Regions from separate parts of the Homo sapiens genome. Here region 2 is linked to region 1. The links come from fine-mapping of genetic effects on gene expression. A gene starts in region 1. The other region holds a variant in brackets. All regions are shown on one strand. Distances are from middle to middle. Region 1 holds the start of SERPINB9 (serpin family B member 9). Region 2 holds the start of MIR4645 (microRNA 4645).

Region 1 (8,129 bases):
TTACAAAGTCTCTTGCTCCAAAAAAGAGGTAGTTCTTTGCAACTTATGTTTCAAATAATTTCAGTGTCATTTTCTAAAGAAAGATTCTGCGCTAGGACAAGACAGCTTGGATGGTCTTTTCCAAGGGATTAACCGAGGAAAGTTTCCCCCAAATAAATCTCGGTGGAGCAGAGTTCCTGCCTCCCTGCCCTGCCCCACTTCTTCCCCAGTGGACCCCGCCTCCCTGAAACGGCCAGTGCACACTCGGGCCCCAGTCCTGCCCTCCTTTCTCAGTGGCTCTGGAGTGTGAGTGTGAAGCTGGTGACAGAACACGCAGCCCAGGCCAGTCCCTGCTCCTGGCGGACGGGCAAGCTTACCTGGGCCATCTGGGTTGCGGTGTTTCCCTTTGCCCCTAGGAGAACCATGGCCAGGGCAGAGGAGATGCTCACAGGAGAACAGAACACGTTGTGCGAAGGGTTATCTTGACACAGTATCTTTAAAAGGCGTATGGCAAAAGTACCACTTGCATTAGAAAGAGTTTCCATGATGCAGGGCCTGGAAGGGAAGAATAAAGAGAAATGCAGTTTCCACACTCCCTGAATGTTACTGACCTACTTACTACAGGGCAATTTTGGAATCGTACTTTTTGTTTTCTTCTTAAAGTTCGTAAGTATTTTAAATTGGAGAAAAATTTATTTTCTGTTAGTCTCCGGCCAAAAATTAAGTGCAAATGTTAAGGTAATTAGCTAAGTGTGGTGATGGCAGCAGCTCAAACCAGCAATAGCAACAGAACTGGCTCGCCTGCAGAGCTCGCTCTCTCACACACACACACACACACACACACAGAGCTGGAAGCAGTGAACTCCAATTCTTTCCGTAAGGACCAGATCGTCCCATCTGAGGAGGAGAATGGGGTCAGGGAGGAGGAGGAAAATGCTGTTCTTATTCTTGCATGCATTTACAAAGAGTCCTTGTGAGATTTTCAACTGGGCACCAGCCTGTGGCCTCCCTGACATTCAGCTGATACACAAAAGACACTGAGATGCTGAATCTGACCCAGAGACAGACAGCTGTGAGGCAAGGAGCTGTCATCCATAGAGGCAAGTGAGTGCGTCCTGGACAGCCGGGGTGGAGCCAGGCTGCTCCCAGTCAGCCAGCCTGCCCCAGGCCCACGCGGCCTGACATCCCAGTAACTCCATTCAGAGCTCCTGCCCATCACCAGCTTCTGCACATCATGTGACCCTTGAACACAGAGTGGGACTTGGACAATTGTGTGGTTTTGCTTCGTTTTGTTTTGTTTTTAATGTGCTTCCTAACTCAGAAACATCTATTTGGGAGCTTTACTCATTACTCCCAGCAAAAGCCATGAGTGTAGATTGTGCGTGAGAGGAAGGATCTGATCCCTGCAGAACGCCAGAATGGAAAGGCAAGAAACAGCCCAAGGTGAGGAGTAAAACAGGCGAGAACAAGGAGGTGGTGCCTGTGAAGCCACTGGAGACCAAAGTGTGAATGTGAGGGGGTGGGTCTCTTGGCCACAGGCCTGAAACCAAATGAACCCCCACCCCCAGGCTGCAGTTCCCAGTGCACTTGGAAATGAGACCCTGACTCCTCCAGGTGAGCCTGGGAGACCTCCCTGACTCCTTTCCATCTCCCCCTCCTCCCCCACACCCATCCCCAAGGCCTGCCCTCTACGCCCACATTTCTTCCCACTTCGGATTCTGTGCCTGGTCTAATGCCCAGGCCCCCTCCCGAGCCTCTGGTCTCCCTAGAGCCACTCCCCACTGTCGGGACACCTCATCTGTGCTCCCCAAAACGCCACGCAAAGCGCTGGAGAGCCTTGGACAATGAACACAACCCACTCCCCCAGCCACCCCCACGCCACAGCCACACGGCACCTCAGAAAGCGGTGTCTTAATCCTCTTGTCCTTCCTCCTAAATCTCCCAGGGGCCCTTAGGCCCCTCAAAGGTGGCCGCTCAAAGCCACCTTGTTAAAACGGTGTCTTACCCACCTGCCCCCTCCCTTGATCCAGACTCACTGAGGTCACAGCCTCCACCTCTGGCCATCCTGAACCCCTCCCAAAGTCAACTCTTCACAAACACTGTTGGTCCCCCTTAGAAGGCCCCATGTCCATCACGGCATTAATTCCACTCACCCTCAAACACCGCGGCCCGGAGGCTCTGATTCCCACCCTGGAGGAGGTTCTCTTGACCCCGCCGGCGCGACCCTCCCCAGCACGACCCTTCCTCCCGAAGGTGATTCCTCATCTTGCTGGTGGTCCCCACAGACCGCAGGCTCTGCAGGCGAGCGCTGAGCCTGGCTCTGCAGATTCTCAGGACCCCATTCGTTTAGCTGAATTATTGAAAGAATTAAGATGGATAAGAGTGCTCAGATTTGAAACTCCGAGACTGGTGGCTTTATTTTTTTGTTGTTGTTGGTGGTGGTTTTTTTGTGTTTTTCTTTTTTTTGTTTTGAGACGAAGTCTCACTCTGTCTGCCAGGCTGGAGTGCAGTGGCGCAATCCCAGCTCACTGCAACCTCTGCCTCCCGAGTTGAAGTGATTTTCCTGCCTCAGCACATAGCTGACATTATTACAGGCGTGGGCCACCATGCCCGGCTAATTTCTGTATTTTTAGTAGAGACCGGTTTTCACCACGTTTGCCAGACTGGTCTCGAACTCCTGATCTCCAAGGATCCGACCGCCTTGGCCTCCCAAAGTGCTGGGATTACAGGCGTGAGCCACTGCGCCCGGCCGAGACTGGTGACTGTAAAGGACAGTGAAGAAGCAGGACAGACGTCATCCTGCGGATCCCAGAGCAGAGAAGAGCAGTGAGAACACAGGGCCGGCAGGTGGGGAGGAGGCTGCAGGGGAGGGCTTCGGCCAGGGAAGGGCAGCGAGGAGACATCCGGGAGGGAGGCGTCCGCGGTGGCTGTGGGCCGCCAAGGCGGAGACCGGCTGCCGCTCCCAGGCACCCCCCAGAGACCGTTGCTGACCCCACCGAGAAGGCACCGCCTCCCCGGGGCTCTTGGCTGAGCGACCTCTCCTGTCCTCCGGTCCCATCACTCGGTGGCAGCCGGTGGACCTGAAGCTCGCCACTCCCGTCCCCTACCCCAGCCGTGCGCGGGGACGCCCTCACCTGCCACCTAGTCCAGCGCTGCCGCCGTCTCCGTGCCGCGCTCCGAGCCTGGACGCCGACCCCCGAGGCGCAGGACCCGGCCCTGCTGCTGCGCTCGCCGCGGACTCCCGCTAGGGCCTCTGCAGGCACCGCTTTTATACCGCAGGGTCGGGCGCCTCCCACGCTTTCTGCGTTTAGGCGGAGCCTGGCGGGACCAGCGGGGGCGCCGCGCGTGGTGGCCGAGGTCAGAGCTGGGAGCAGGGTCAGGTCAGGGTCCCCCCAGTCCGCCCCGCCCGGGGCGATGTCCGCCAATGCTCCCGCCAGCCTGAGGCCGGCCAGGTTCCCAAGGCGCGCGCTCGGCCTCACCCACCCCCGGCGCCAGGGCCTCTTCAGGACCGGGTTCAGAACCTGACAGCCCAGAGAAGTAGGTTGGGAGCCTGCGGCGTCCAGGGCCTCCGCGCGAAGAAACAAGGCGTCTGCGGGAAAGGAGACGGAGCCTGGAACCCTGGGCTTTTGTACTTAAGGAAGCGAAGGTCGGGTGACAGCCAAGCTCCGTGTTCCAGTGGGAAGGTCCCATGGGTCTGTGTTCCACGCCTCTTGTCATGAATATGGGGGATTCACTTAGAACCAAAGCATTTGTTCCAGGTCCCACCACTAACTAGTACTAGTCCTGGGCCCAGAACCAGGCGTCCTCACTCCTAGTACCCAAGCCCTTCTCTAGCCACAGGTGTTTGGGCTGCGGTGTGGTGTAAGCAGCCCCATTTTCCCGCAAAGTGATGGGAAGAGACACTGAGTCACACGGGCTCAGGACACTCCTTGTGTCCTCTATCAGGGGGTCCAGAGGCAGGGACTCGGGGGAGTTGATGCAGCAGTTCGTGATGTCATCAGATATCCCCCCACCCCCTTCCATCTCAGGCTGGACTCAATTGGAAGCATTTCATGTTGGCACGGTGACGTCCAGAGGAAGGGAACAGACAAATGGCTCTCTCTGGAGCACGGAGCGTCGCCCAGAAGCCGTGCCCTCCTGTTTCAAATTGACCAGAATTAGAGCTTTCTCCTGAGGGCCTGAATTAGGGAGAAGCAAGGCAGGTGCCTAAGGCACAAAATTTCAGGAGGGCCACACGCATAGGTGCCAACCCTGCATTTGCGCGGCCCTGAGAATCAGAGCCTCCTTCAATTTGACACCCTAGGTGCCTAGCTTGTTTTTAAAAATAAAACCTTTATTAAAAGACAATTCACGGACCATAATATGCATCCTTTTAAAGCATACAATTCAATAGTTCTTGGTATATTGACAAAGCTGTCCAACTCTCACCACTATCTAACTCCAGAAGGTTTTCATCACCCTAAAAGGAACTGTGATACCCATTAGCAATTATTCTCCATTTCCTCCTTCCCACAACCCCTGGCTTCTGGGAGAGGCTCCGACCTCCAGATTTCTTTTCTGGCCCTGCGGATTGACCGACTGTGAAGATTTCATGCAAATTGAATCATACAATATGTGGTCTTTCCTGACTGCCTTCTTTCACTTAGCATAATGTTTTCAAGGGTCATTCTTGATGGTTCCAGGTAGCATTTGTTAGTACTTTATTTCTTTTTATAACTGAATAATACTTATAAAAATATTATAAAATCAAAAGGGAAATTAGAATGTATTTTGAAATTAATAAAAAATGAAAATAAAAACATCAAAATTTGTAGGATGTTATTAAGTCAGCTTTGGGGAAATTTTGCAGCATGAAATGCCTATATTAGGAGAGGAGAAAGGCTTCAAATCAATGACCTCAGTTTCTACCTTCAAAAACTAGAAAAAGTATAAATACATTGAACACATAATCAGTAGAAAAGAAGAAATAATAAAGATTAGAGAATAAATCAATGATATAGAAAACTTTATAATGATAGAGACAATTGATTAAACAAAAAGCTGTTATTTATTTATCCACTTATTTATTTTTTTGAGGTGGAGTCTTGCTCTATCGCCTAGGCTGGAGAACAATGGCGTGATCTTGGCTCACTGCAACCTCCACCTCCCAATTCCAGCGATTCTCCTGCCTCAGCCTCCCAAGTAGCTGGGACTATAGGCATGCATCACCATACCCAGCTAATTTTTGTATTTTTAGTAGAGATGGGGTTTCACCATGTTGGCCAGGCTGGTCACGAACTCCTGACATCAGGTGATCCTCCCGCCTCAGCCTCCCAAAGTGCTGGGATTACAGGCGTGAACCACTGTGCCTGGCCATACCCATGAATTTTAAGGCAACAAATGGGGGCATCGTTGTCAGTGCCATTGCAAGAAAGTGTCTGAGTAAACGTGGACCATGATGGCATAGTGCAAACATGTTAGCTGCCTCTGTGCTCCGAGGCCTAGAGGAAACGTCCTTTCAATCCAAATCATGTGACCAGCGATGGAAAATGGGTTTAGGAAAGGATAAAAACACAGAACTATGAAAACAAGGTTATTTTAGCTTTTCCTTTCCTTTCTCCTCTTTCCCCCACTAAAAATTGTATGGGGGGGTGGGGCATGAAATCTGTTCAGAAATAGCTAAGAATCAAGAGATTTTGCAATTACCTATATTTTTCATTTAAAATCTCTTCTACTTTATTACTTTAAGAAAGTCACAACATATCACAAAAATATTTCTTTATCTGATTGCTCATCATGGTTTTCCCAGATAGAAAATACACAGGGCCCCAGAGGAAGCATTTTTCCAGGATTTTCCAACACTGTCCGGAGGAAGGGAGTCTTTGATCCTCACACCAGGTCCAAGGATTTTTCAAAAATCACTACTTCATGATCAGACAAGCCCAAGAGAAATGACAGAATCATGTTGCTGGCCTGAAAACCTGGCAAACGTGTAAGCAGACCTCCGTCACTGAGGACCCACCCAGCAGTAACTTCCTTCCTAGCTCCAAGTTCACTGCAAATAAAGTCCCTCACCACCAATGACCCAGCCGTTGTGCGTCTCTAGACTCTTCTGCATCTTTAGCAAAGGCCACATTTTCCAGCTCTACCTGTGGGCATTTGACACACTTCCTTAAAGTCCTGCAAAGAGCAAAATATGGAGCGTGGCCCTATTCATTCTGCAAAGGTTTCCACAACTTTGAAAACATTTCCCTGCCCCCAACATGTTCCTATCATGCTTGTGACACAGTCAGGTTCCATTCTAAGACTCATGCATTCAGTTAACAAAAAATAATTCGCTTCCTGCCATGGGCTTGGCTTGGCACTTGCTGGGAACTTGGTACCAAGTTGAAGACACAATATCTGGCCCAAGAGGGCAGCAGTCTGAGGGAGAGACGGCGAGCACACTGAGGTACTTCCAAGGTGCCCTGAACACCCCTAGAATGGCCCAGCCCAACACTTAAGCTCCACAGGGACTTTCCACTAAATCTTCTGTCTCCCACACCGGACTGCGAGCCTCAGGACAGCCTAACCCTCCTTTACTAATTTTTATATTAGCACACTGTACATTTGGCCACCGGTACCTCAGGTTCCACATCCACAGATTCAACCAACTGCAGATGGAAAAATTTTTTAAAAAATCAAAAAATAATACAAAATTTAAAACAATACAGTATAACGGCTATTTGTACAGCATTTACATTGTATTAGGTATTATACATAATCTAGAGATGATTTCAAGCGTATGGGAGGATGTTACACAGGTTACATTTGCATAGGTTATATGCAAACACTACGCCATGTTATATTAGGGACTTGAGGATCCGCAGAGCTCAATGTTCGCTAGGATCCTGGAATCAATCAGATACCAAGAGACAACTGTATTTGCTGAAGCGTATTTGTTGAATGATTGAAAGGCTTCATACTGGGATTAGATGATCAAGAAATAGAGATCTGCAAGTGGGCAAACAGGGAAACGGCATTTCAGATCTGCATCATCCAGGTGGCTTGAGAGAACAGGGACCAAGGAAGGTCCCTGAAGATGGACTTGGAAGGGTCTGGAGGTTGTGTGTGTGTGTGTGTGCGCGCTCGAGTATGTGTGTCGAGGTTGTGTGTGTGTGTGTGTGTGTGTGCTCGAGTACGTGTGTCGAGGTTGTGTGTGTGTGTGCTCGAGTACGTGTGTCAAGGTTGTGTGTGCTCGAGTACGTGTGTCAAGGTTGTGTGTGTGCTCGAGTACGTGTGTCGAGGTTGTGTGTGTGTGCTCGAGTATGTGTGTCCAGGTTGTGTGTGTGTGTGTGCTCGAGTATGTGTGTCAAAGTTGTGTGTGTGTGTGCGCGCGCTCAAGTATGTGTGTCCAGGTTGTGTGTGTGTGTGCGCTCGAGTATGTGTGTCGAGGTTGTGTGTGTGTGTGTGTGTGCTCGAGTATGTGTGTCCAGGTTGTGTGTGTGTGCTCGAGTACGTGTGTCGAGGTTGTGTGTGTGCTCGAGTACGTGTGTCGATGTTGTGTGTGCTCGAGTACGTGTGTTGAGGTTGTGTGTGTGTGTGCTCGAGTACGTGTGTCGAGGTTGTGTGTGTGCGCTTGAGTACGTGTGTCGAGGTTGTGTGTGTGCTCGAGTACGTGTGTCGAGGTTGTGTGTGTGTGCTCGAGTACGTGTGTCGAGGTTGTGTGTGTGTGCTCGAGTACGTGTGTCGAGGTTGTGTGTGTGCTCGAGTACGTGTGTCGAGGTGTGTGCTCGAGTACGTGTGTCGAGGTTGTGTGTGTGTGTGCTCGAGTACGTGTCGAGGTTGTGTGTGTGTGCTCGAGTACGTGTGTCGAGGTTGTGTGTGTGTGCTCGAGTACGTGTGTCGAGGTGTGTGTGTGCTCAAGTACGTGTCGAGGTTGTGTGTGTGTGCTCGAGTACGTGTGTCGAGGTGTGTGTGTGTGCTCGAGTACGTGTGTCAAGGTTGTGTGTGTGTGTGCTCGAGTACGTGTGTCGAGGTTGTGTGTGTGTGTGCGCTCGAGTACGTGTGTCGAGGTTGTGTGTGTGTGTGTGTGTGTGCTCGAGTACGTATGTCGGGAGGGGGATAAGAAGAACACAGCAGCAGGAGATGAGCCTTGAAACGTATGTTGAGGTCAAATCGAAAAGGCCTGT
Region 2 (8,129 bases), 48 kb before region 1:
ACAGGCAGTAATCATGGGTCAGACCTGCCATTATCCAGTTCAGCCCATTTCATTTGACAGACACCTGGTGAATAGAGACATGCAGGGACTCTTGTCCACATTTGCCCAGTTGGCTGATAGCACAGTGTACAAAGTCTGTCTGCAGCAGGTCATAATTTCACAGCTCTGCCACATGCATGTATATCACTGTACCAAGCGTGTTCACATGGTATGGTGCTGACACATGTTGACGGAATGTGGTACAGACCCTCTGTGTGAAGTGTGTTCACACAGTGCGGTGCTGACCCTCTGTATGAAGCGTGTTCACACGGTGCGGTGCTGACTCTCTGTATGAAGCGTGTTCACCTGGTGCAGGACAGACTCTCTGCATGAAGCATGTTCACACAGTGCGGTGCTGACCCGACCCTCTGTATGAAGCATGTTCACACGGTGCAGTGCTGACTCTCTGTATGACACATGTTCACACAGTGAGGTGCTGACCCTCTGTATGAAGCATGTTCACGTAGTGCAGTGCTGACTCTGTATGAAGTGTGTTCACACAATGAGGTGCTGACCTCATGTATGAAGCATGTTCACACAATGCGGTGCTGACCCTCTGTATGAAGCGTGTTCACACGGTGCGGTGCTGACTCTCTGTATGACACATGTTCACACAATGCGGTGCTGACCTTCTGTATGAAGCGTGTTCACACAGTGCAGTGCTGACCTTCTGTATGACACATGTTCACAGAGTGAGGTGCTGATCTTCTGTATGAAGCATGTTCACATGGTGCAGTACTGACTCTCTGTTTGAAGTGTGTTCACATGGTGCAGTGCTGACCTGTATGAAGGATGTTCACGCGGTGCGGTGCTGACTCTCTGTATAACACATGTTCACGCAGTGAGGTGCTGATCTTCTGTATGAAGCATGTTCACACAGTGCAGTGCTGACTCTCTGTATGAAGTGTGTTCACACGGTGCATTGCTGACCTTCTGTATGAAGTGTGTTCACACAGTGAGGTGCTGATCTTCTGTATGAAGCATGTTCACACGGTGCAGTACTGACTCTCTGTATGAAGTGTGTTCACACGGTGCGGTGCTGACTCTCTGTATGAAGCGTGTTCACACAGTGCGGTGCTGACTCTCTGTATGAAGCATGTTCACACGGTGCGGTGCTGACTCTCTGTATGAAGTGTGTTCACCTGGTGCAGTACAGGCTCTCTGCATGAAGCATGTTCACACAGTGCGGTGCTGACCCTCTGTATGAAGCGTGTTCACACAGTGCATGTGAAACCAGAACCGACAGTCGAACCCAAGCAGAAGTCTTGACCAAGCACTTCCCTCCTGGGAATGCACCATGATATCACCACACCGAAGTCCAGGCTGGCAAATAGGGACATTTAAGTGACATTTAAGCTCGTGGTGGCCCTATGAGGAGTCATTGCTGACTGAGATGGGATTTTAAGGTGTTGCCTGCCTGTGTGTTCTCAGACCCTCTCCTGAAGCCCCACCCCTTCCCCTGATCCTCTCCTGGGACCCCCCTCCCCTATCCCTGACCCTCTCCTGGAGCCCCCCTCCCCCCTCCCTGTCCCTCTCCTGAAGTCCCCTCCCCTGACCCTGTCCTGGGACCCCCTCGCCTTTCCCTGACCCTCACCTGAAGTCCCCTCCCCTTTCCCTGACCCTCTCCTGGAGCCCCCTCCCCTCTCCCTGTCCCTCTCCTGAAGTCCCCTCCCCTGACCCTCACCTGGGACCCCCCTCCCCTTTCCCTGACCCTCTCCTGGGACCCCCTCCCCTTTCCCTGACCCTCTCCTGGAGCCCCCTCCCCTCTCCCTGTCCCTCTCCTGAAGTCCCCTCCCCTGACCCTCTCCTGGGACCCCCTCCCCTTTACCTGACCCTCTCCTGAAATGCCCTGCCTGCACCATTGTCTTATATTTTTCTCATGGTTAGACTGGGGTTATGGTTTTTTCTGGGAAAGGCCACAGAGGTAAAGTGACATCTCATTGTGTCATATTCAGGGTCCATGCCATCAACATGACTCATCAGTGCTGACGCGGTGATGACCTGGGGGACGCAGTGTTTCTCAGGTTCCCCCACTGAGCCTCTGCAACTCCAGTAGTGACAAACCGCTCCACCCCCCGCCATCCATTTTCTTAATTGTTCAATTGCTAGTATCACATTTCATCAAGAGACGCATAGCAGAGTCCAACCAAGACTCCATGATAGAGAAACCAGGCAAGAACTACTGTCTCGTCGCAACTTGAGGAGACAATATTTCTTGCCTGGTTTCCCTATCATGGAAACTGAGTCCCCCACAGTTTCGTTTCCTCAATCGAGCTAATTACTGAGGTTGCTTAGCAGCCTCCGGAGTGAGCACAGCGGAAACTATCATTAGGGAACTTTGAACGTTTCTGTGAAATGCCAACAGGAAATGTTTCGGCATTTTCAAAATATTTAGAAAATTCCCTGTTCAGTTACAAAAGTGAATCTGAATCTTACCCTGCAGAAGTTAAACTGCTCCCTCTTCTGGATAAAATTACCTTTGTAATTTCTTTTTACAACCTACAGCCTATTGTGCTTGGGTTTCCAAATGGTTTAAAGTTCCCTTGTCCCTTACTTTGTGTCAAGGGGGTGTTTGTGCCTTAAAGGGAAGATCCTGTGCCTTAAAGGAAACCAGAACTGATAGTCGAACCCAAGCAGAAGTCTTGACCAAGCACTTCCCTCCTGGGAGTGCACCATGATATCACCACACCGAAGGCCAGGCTGGCAAACAGGGATGTACACGCAGGGGAGACGAGAACTTCTCCCGTGAGAAACAGCACAGTCCAGCCATATGAACCCACAGCTCAGGAAGTATTGCTCACTTTTACTGTTCTCTCTTAGGGAAGGGCATTCTCAAAACGTTTCCGCACAAGCAGACCATCCCTTTTATTTTCCCCGTCTGTCTCCTTTCCTTCTGCTTTCAAAATGTCTCAAGAGTATTTACAAGAGTTGAGCAACACAGGCATCTTTATCTGGGGTCTTTATCCACAGAGCAGAGGACAGGAAGTCATCACTACAGAGACGAAGCGATGTATGGTTTGACCCAGTGGAGGACTTTGTTAAGGTGGAGGTGTGAGTGTGGAGTGTAAACGTGGGACATCCAGGGCAGTGGAGGGTAACCACTGGAGAGGAAGTCTGGGGACAGTTTGGGAGCAGCCAAATATAAAATAAGCATTTCTGTTCTAAATCCAAATGAACATTCTACGCTGCTGTCATCTCCAGTATACCTCAGAGATCCTAAAGTTTCCTGAAGTTGTTTGGAAGTCACGGCCGATGTAAAGTGAAAGCGCACACATATCTGTAAGCTCTGAGCTCAGGATTTCACGTGAGGTCCTTTGTTCGGGAGGCAGGGGGGTTCTCCCTGTTGCTGGCTGAGGTCACTGCATTCATAGTGTGACAGGAGACAGCACAATACAGCAAAGCAGCTGGAGGGATTGCCTTGTAGAGTGGAAGACCTTCCGCAGAACAGAACGCTCTCTGTCCTGTTCTGCTGGAGAATGAAAAGGGATGGGTGGCCTGCGTGAAACCTCTTTATGGGGCTTGTGCGTTCTGACACTGTGACCGCCGAGGCCACAGCTGCCTTTGTTTCTTCCTCTCTGACCTCCATGAAGGGCTAGCGCACAAACTTGGACAGGGACGGCTCTATCTCTTGGGTGATATTCTGGAAAAGTCAGTCTTGACTTAGTCAAAGGCATCGGTAATTCCCCAACAGCTGAGAGCAGACTCCATGCTGCGGTTTTCTTGTAACTTGAATCGAGGAGACTTCCACATCTTTGCTATCCATTGCGCCTGGCTTTGTCCACTCGCTGACTTCTTCATATATAAGCTCATTTTCCACCTGGAAGAAAAGAGGAGAGAGCCTTAGGGCCCCAGCATTGGGTCCGCACCGAGGCCTACACTGCTCCCCCCATTCCCACCTAGGACCATGGCATCCCAGTCCTCTCTCCCTGTGGGAGGCTTTCACAGAGGTTCACATGGGCCCAGGCCACTATGATTTTCTGAGTCTCCTTGTTTAATAAAGAAAATGAAGTGCCAAATATTGTGGTATGTTTTAAAATTTTGTATTTAACAAGTGATCTTTCAAAAATGCAATGCAATCTAATTGCGCTATTCCGAAGTTAAGCATAGGATTTAGAAAACATTCTTATGGCATTTCTTTCATGGAACATGAGCTTAACTTTTATCATTAAAGTAATTTCTGTCCGTCTTTTCAGTGTATCTGTCTCTGTGACTCTAAGTATAGTAAGATTACTAGGAAATAATTTCAACATTTTAACTTTGAGGCCCTATGTGAGGCCCAAGATAAGCCCCACGCACCCCCATTCCCAGCCACAGGCTCTGCTGCCTGGCACCTCAAGGTCTGGACCCTGTACAGGGCTCCCACATGTCGACACAAGCTCCCATGTGTCACCTGTGCCTAGTAGAGAGGTGTATATTGCAACAAAAACTACAAATCAAAACAGGGCTGCAGCTCAAGAATCTTCAAGTTTCCTGTACCCCACCACTGGTTTAAGACAAGGATCAAGTTCATTTCAAGTAACTTATTAGTTACTAGTTAGTAATTGGTGGTAATTTCTTTTTTTTCTTTTTTTTTTAGATGGAGTCTCACCCTGTTGCCCAGGCTGGAGTGCAGTGGCACGATCTTGGCTCACTGCAAGCTCCACCTCCCGAGTTCAAGCCATTCTCCTGCCTCAGCCTCCCCA[A/G]GTATCTGGGACTACAGGTGCCTGCCACCATGCCTGGCTAATTTTTGTATTTCTAGTAGAGACAGGGTTTCAGCATGTTGGCCAGGCTGGTCTCGAACTCCTGACCTAAGGTGATCCACCCACCTTGGCCTCCCAAAGTGCTGAGATTACAGGCGTGAGCCACTGTACCCAGCCGATAATTTCATAGATTATCAGCTACCCTGCACATATTCATGTATTGCTTGTCAGTTGACAGGAAAGAGTCTTATCTTATTGGCCAAGAATTTAGCCGGCATCTTTGATCCCATCAGCAGTTTTGCACTTGATATTTGAGGAGTTTCAAAATGCTAGGAGGCTTTGATATTTTCTTTCACCTCAAAACGAAAATGAAACATGGTCCAAAAAGTTTGCGCTAAGACCAAATGGCCAGTGCAATTTGTACAAAGAGTTAACACTGTCCTTTTGGATTTTCAGAAAAAGAGCAAGTAACCTTTATGGAGACTGAAACCATAGCCATTTCCATGGAAGGTTGGGGCAAGAAGCCCTATTTTCAATTTGCTCACACAGAGGCTCTTCATGGGAAGGCCAGACTGCCATGGATGAAACATACAGCGGGGATGTATCCGAACACCGTCTCCTGGCCTGTGAAACAGACCAAGAAGTCCCCTTGGAGTTAGAGGGGCCTCTGTGAGCCCTGAGAGATGCTGCAGCCCAAGGAAGACATGGGAGGAGGCACTAAGCAGTGTCCCAGGAAGTCACATAAAGAAAACATCATTGGCTGCGCTGCTGCAAATCTGTGTCTGGGAGTTTGGGCCAGGGTGAGAGGGTCGCAGGCTCTGGGCGAGGTTTAGGAAGCAGGAAAGAGGAGTGGACCCGCTGGAAGCCAGAGGACAAGGTGGACGGGGTACAAGGAAAGGGGTCCGCCAAGGGCAGCCTGGGAGGACCCTCCTTGATCATGAAAAAAATGAGCAAACGGACACAAATGTCTTTTCAAAAAAGATGCCAAAGGTTGGCCTCAGCAAAGTCCCCTGAAGCATCCCCTTCTTGCTTTCCCTGAGAAGCTAGATTCTGCGTGTGGGGTGGGGCATCCGGACTTGGTGGCTTTCCTTCTGAGCTTTCCCCACCTGAGTCATCTGCAAAGGGCAAGGCTGCAGGCGGGAGAGGCCGGTGTGATGTGACCGCCAGCCACGGTCCCCACACCCCTCTCTGAGGGCTGTCCCCTCCACCTCATGCCATGACAGGAAACTTTATGACCTGTTCACTAAAAAATCACTTAAGGATTGGAAAGCACCTGTCTATAAATAAAGGCAAGGGGGCTGCCATTTTAAAATTGGGGGTGAGACTGGTCGTGTGCTCTCGAGTGGGCGGGGACTTACAGTAACTCAGAGGCAGGGCAGTTCAGGAGCTGTACATGAGCAGAGGCCCGGGTGCTTGGAGGCCGGCCAGCGTTGGTGGGCCTTCCTGAGGACAGGGTATTTGAGACATACAACAACAGACATAAGCAAGGTTATGATAAAGCTGCAAACCGTTTTCCTGTTTTCATGGGGGCGTAAAGCTAAAGCAGCACTGAATTAACTCTCGAAGTGGGAGGAGAGATCACTGTTGAGGCGGGAGAGGGGATATGGAAAAGTCTGCGTTAGGACTCAGCTGTGTCTGCCGCCAAGGCAAGGGTAACTAATAGATAACAGGCCTTAAGAATTGCTATCTTTGCTCCTCTTCCTGTCTCCCCCTCTCCCTCCCCCTCCCCCTTCCACCCTGTTTCTCCCTTCCTCTCACCCCCTCTCTGCTTCCTGTACTTTTTTTTTTTTTTTTTTTGAGCCAGAGGCTTGCTTTGTTTCCCAGCCTGGAGTGCAGTGGCGGGATCTGGGCTCACTGCGACCTCTGCCTCCCGGGTTCAAGCAATTCTCCTGCCTCAGCCTCCCGAGTAGCTGGGATTACAGGCACACGCAACCATGCCTGGCTAATTTTTGTAATGTTAGTAGAGATGGGGTTTCACCATATTGGTCAGGCTGGTCTTGATCTCTTGACCTTGTGATCTGCCCACCCCAGCCTCCCAAAGTGCTGGGATTACAGGCATAAGCCACCATGCCTGGTCTCTTCTTTCTTTCATCTGGCTTCTAGAAAAAGAAAGTTCTGCCTCAAGGCCTGGGAAAAATAGTTTGGTTTCATTTTGTTTTTCTCCAGCTGACAGTGGTTCTCTGAGTGAATGCCCCTTTCTCATGGCCCCACCTCTGTTTGACCCACCCTACCTCTTCCCCACACCCAAACCAGCCTCCTTCTGCTGCCAGATCATCCTCGGAGCCAGAGATCCCCGCTGGTTTGGACAATAAACATTTGTTGTGCACTTTCTATTACAGTGCCAAATATCAGGTTAGGTTCTGGGGAGATGAGAAAGGATTAAGCAGTGTCCCAGCCTCCAAGGAGATCATGTGACTCCACTGATCATAAATGATGGCCCTGGAAAAAGTTCCAACTCCTCTTCAGTATGGCTCCAGCTGAATGGCTCTGTCCCCTGCCCCTTCTCTGTCTGGGCTGGTCCCTCTGGTAACTGTCTTATGGGTCTTCTCCCTCCACACCGTCGCTCATGCAGGCCCTTCAGTGTAGTACAGCCTCACAGATGCTCAGCTCAGCAGCCCTTTGCTTGAGCTTTTGGGTTTAACCTCCATCCTCTTCCTGTTGTCTGTATCTCTGCGTCATCAAACATCTAAATTTAAGTCTCCTATCTGTGTGATCTTAGACAAGTGTCTAGTGTCAAGTGTCTAGTGGACAAAGGTTTCTAAACCTTTGTCCTCCATTCCTCATTTGTGAAAGGAAGGTAATGGCTTCCGCTTTGTCCATGGCTTAGAGTTGTTCTAAAAATCAAATAACATGATAAATAAATTTAAAAAAAAACAAGTAAGATAACAAGGGCTGGTCCAGATGTGGAGGAAGGGAACACCTGCACACTGTTGCTGGGAATTTAAATTAGTACAAGCATTCAGGGAAACAGTATGGAAGTCCCGCAAAAAATTAAAAATAGAATTACCGTATGATCCAGCAATTTCACTACTGGGTATATCTCCAAAGGAAATGAAATCCTTACCTTGAAGTGGTATCTACACTCCCATGTTCATTGGAGCACTATTCACAATGGCCAAGATATGAAAACAAGCCAAGTGTCTGTCCATGAATGAATGGCTACAGAAAGTGTGGTATACATATATCTGGTGGAATATTATCCAATCTTAAAAAAAAATTGTCATTTTCGACATGGATGAACTTAGAAAACATTATGCTAAGTGAAATAAACCAGGCCCAGGCACAGAAAGACAAATACTGAATGATTTCATTGATATCTGGAATCTAAACTAGAACTCATGAAAGCAGAGAGTAGAAAGCGGCTTGCCTGGGGCTGGGGAACACGGGAATGGGGAGACGTTGGTCAAAGTG

Evidence for each region. PIP is the estimated chance that this variant, and not a neighbour inherited with it, causes the effect.
Region 2: its variant is fine-mapped to the expression of SERPINB9 in whole blood (TOPMed, PIP 0.91).

What each region holds. Positions count from the first base shown.
Region 1 is chr6:2,900,088-2,908,216 of GRCh38, forward strand. SERPINB9 (serpin family B member 9) reads right to left here and starts at 3,222. Exons shown (of 7, transcript NM_004155.6): 1 at 3,114-3,222; 2 at 357-534. The coding sequence starts at 524. It overlaps SERPINB9-AS1 (SERPINB9 antisense RNA 1), which reads left to right. Exons shown (of 5, transcript NR_110841.1): 5 at 396-589. RefSeq lists enhancers at 2,686-3,187, 7,676-8,129 and silencers at 2,898-2,947, 3,188-3,267, 3,368-3,417.
Region 2 is chr6:2,851,835-2,859,963 of GRCh38, forward strand. MIR4645 (microRNA 4645) reads right to left here and starts at 2,273; the gene lies at 2,197-2,273. It also overlaps the pseudogene SERPINB9P1. RefSeq lists enhancers at 508-697, 1,993-2,733, 3,310-3,369, 3,430-3,559, 6,745-7,324. The variant A/G (reference allele first, on the strand shown) is at 4,722.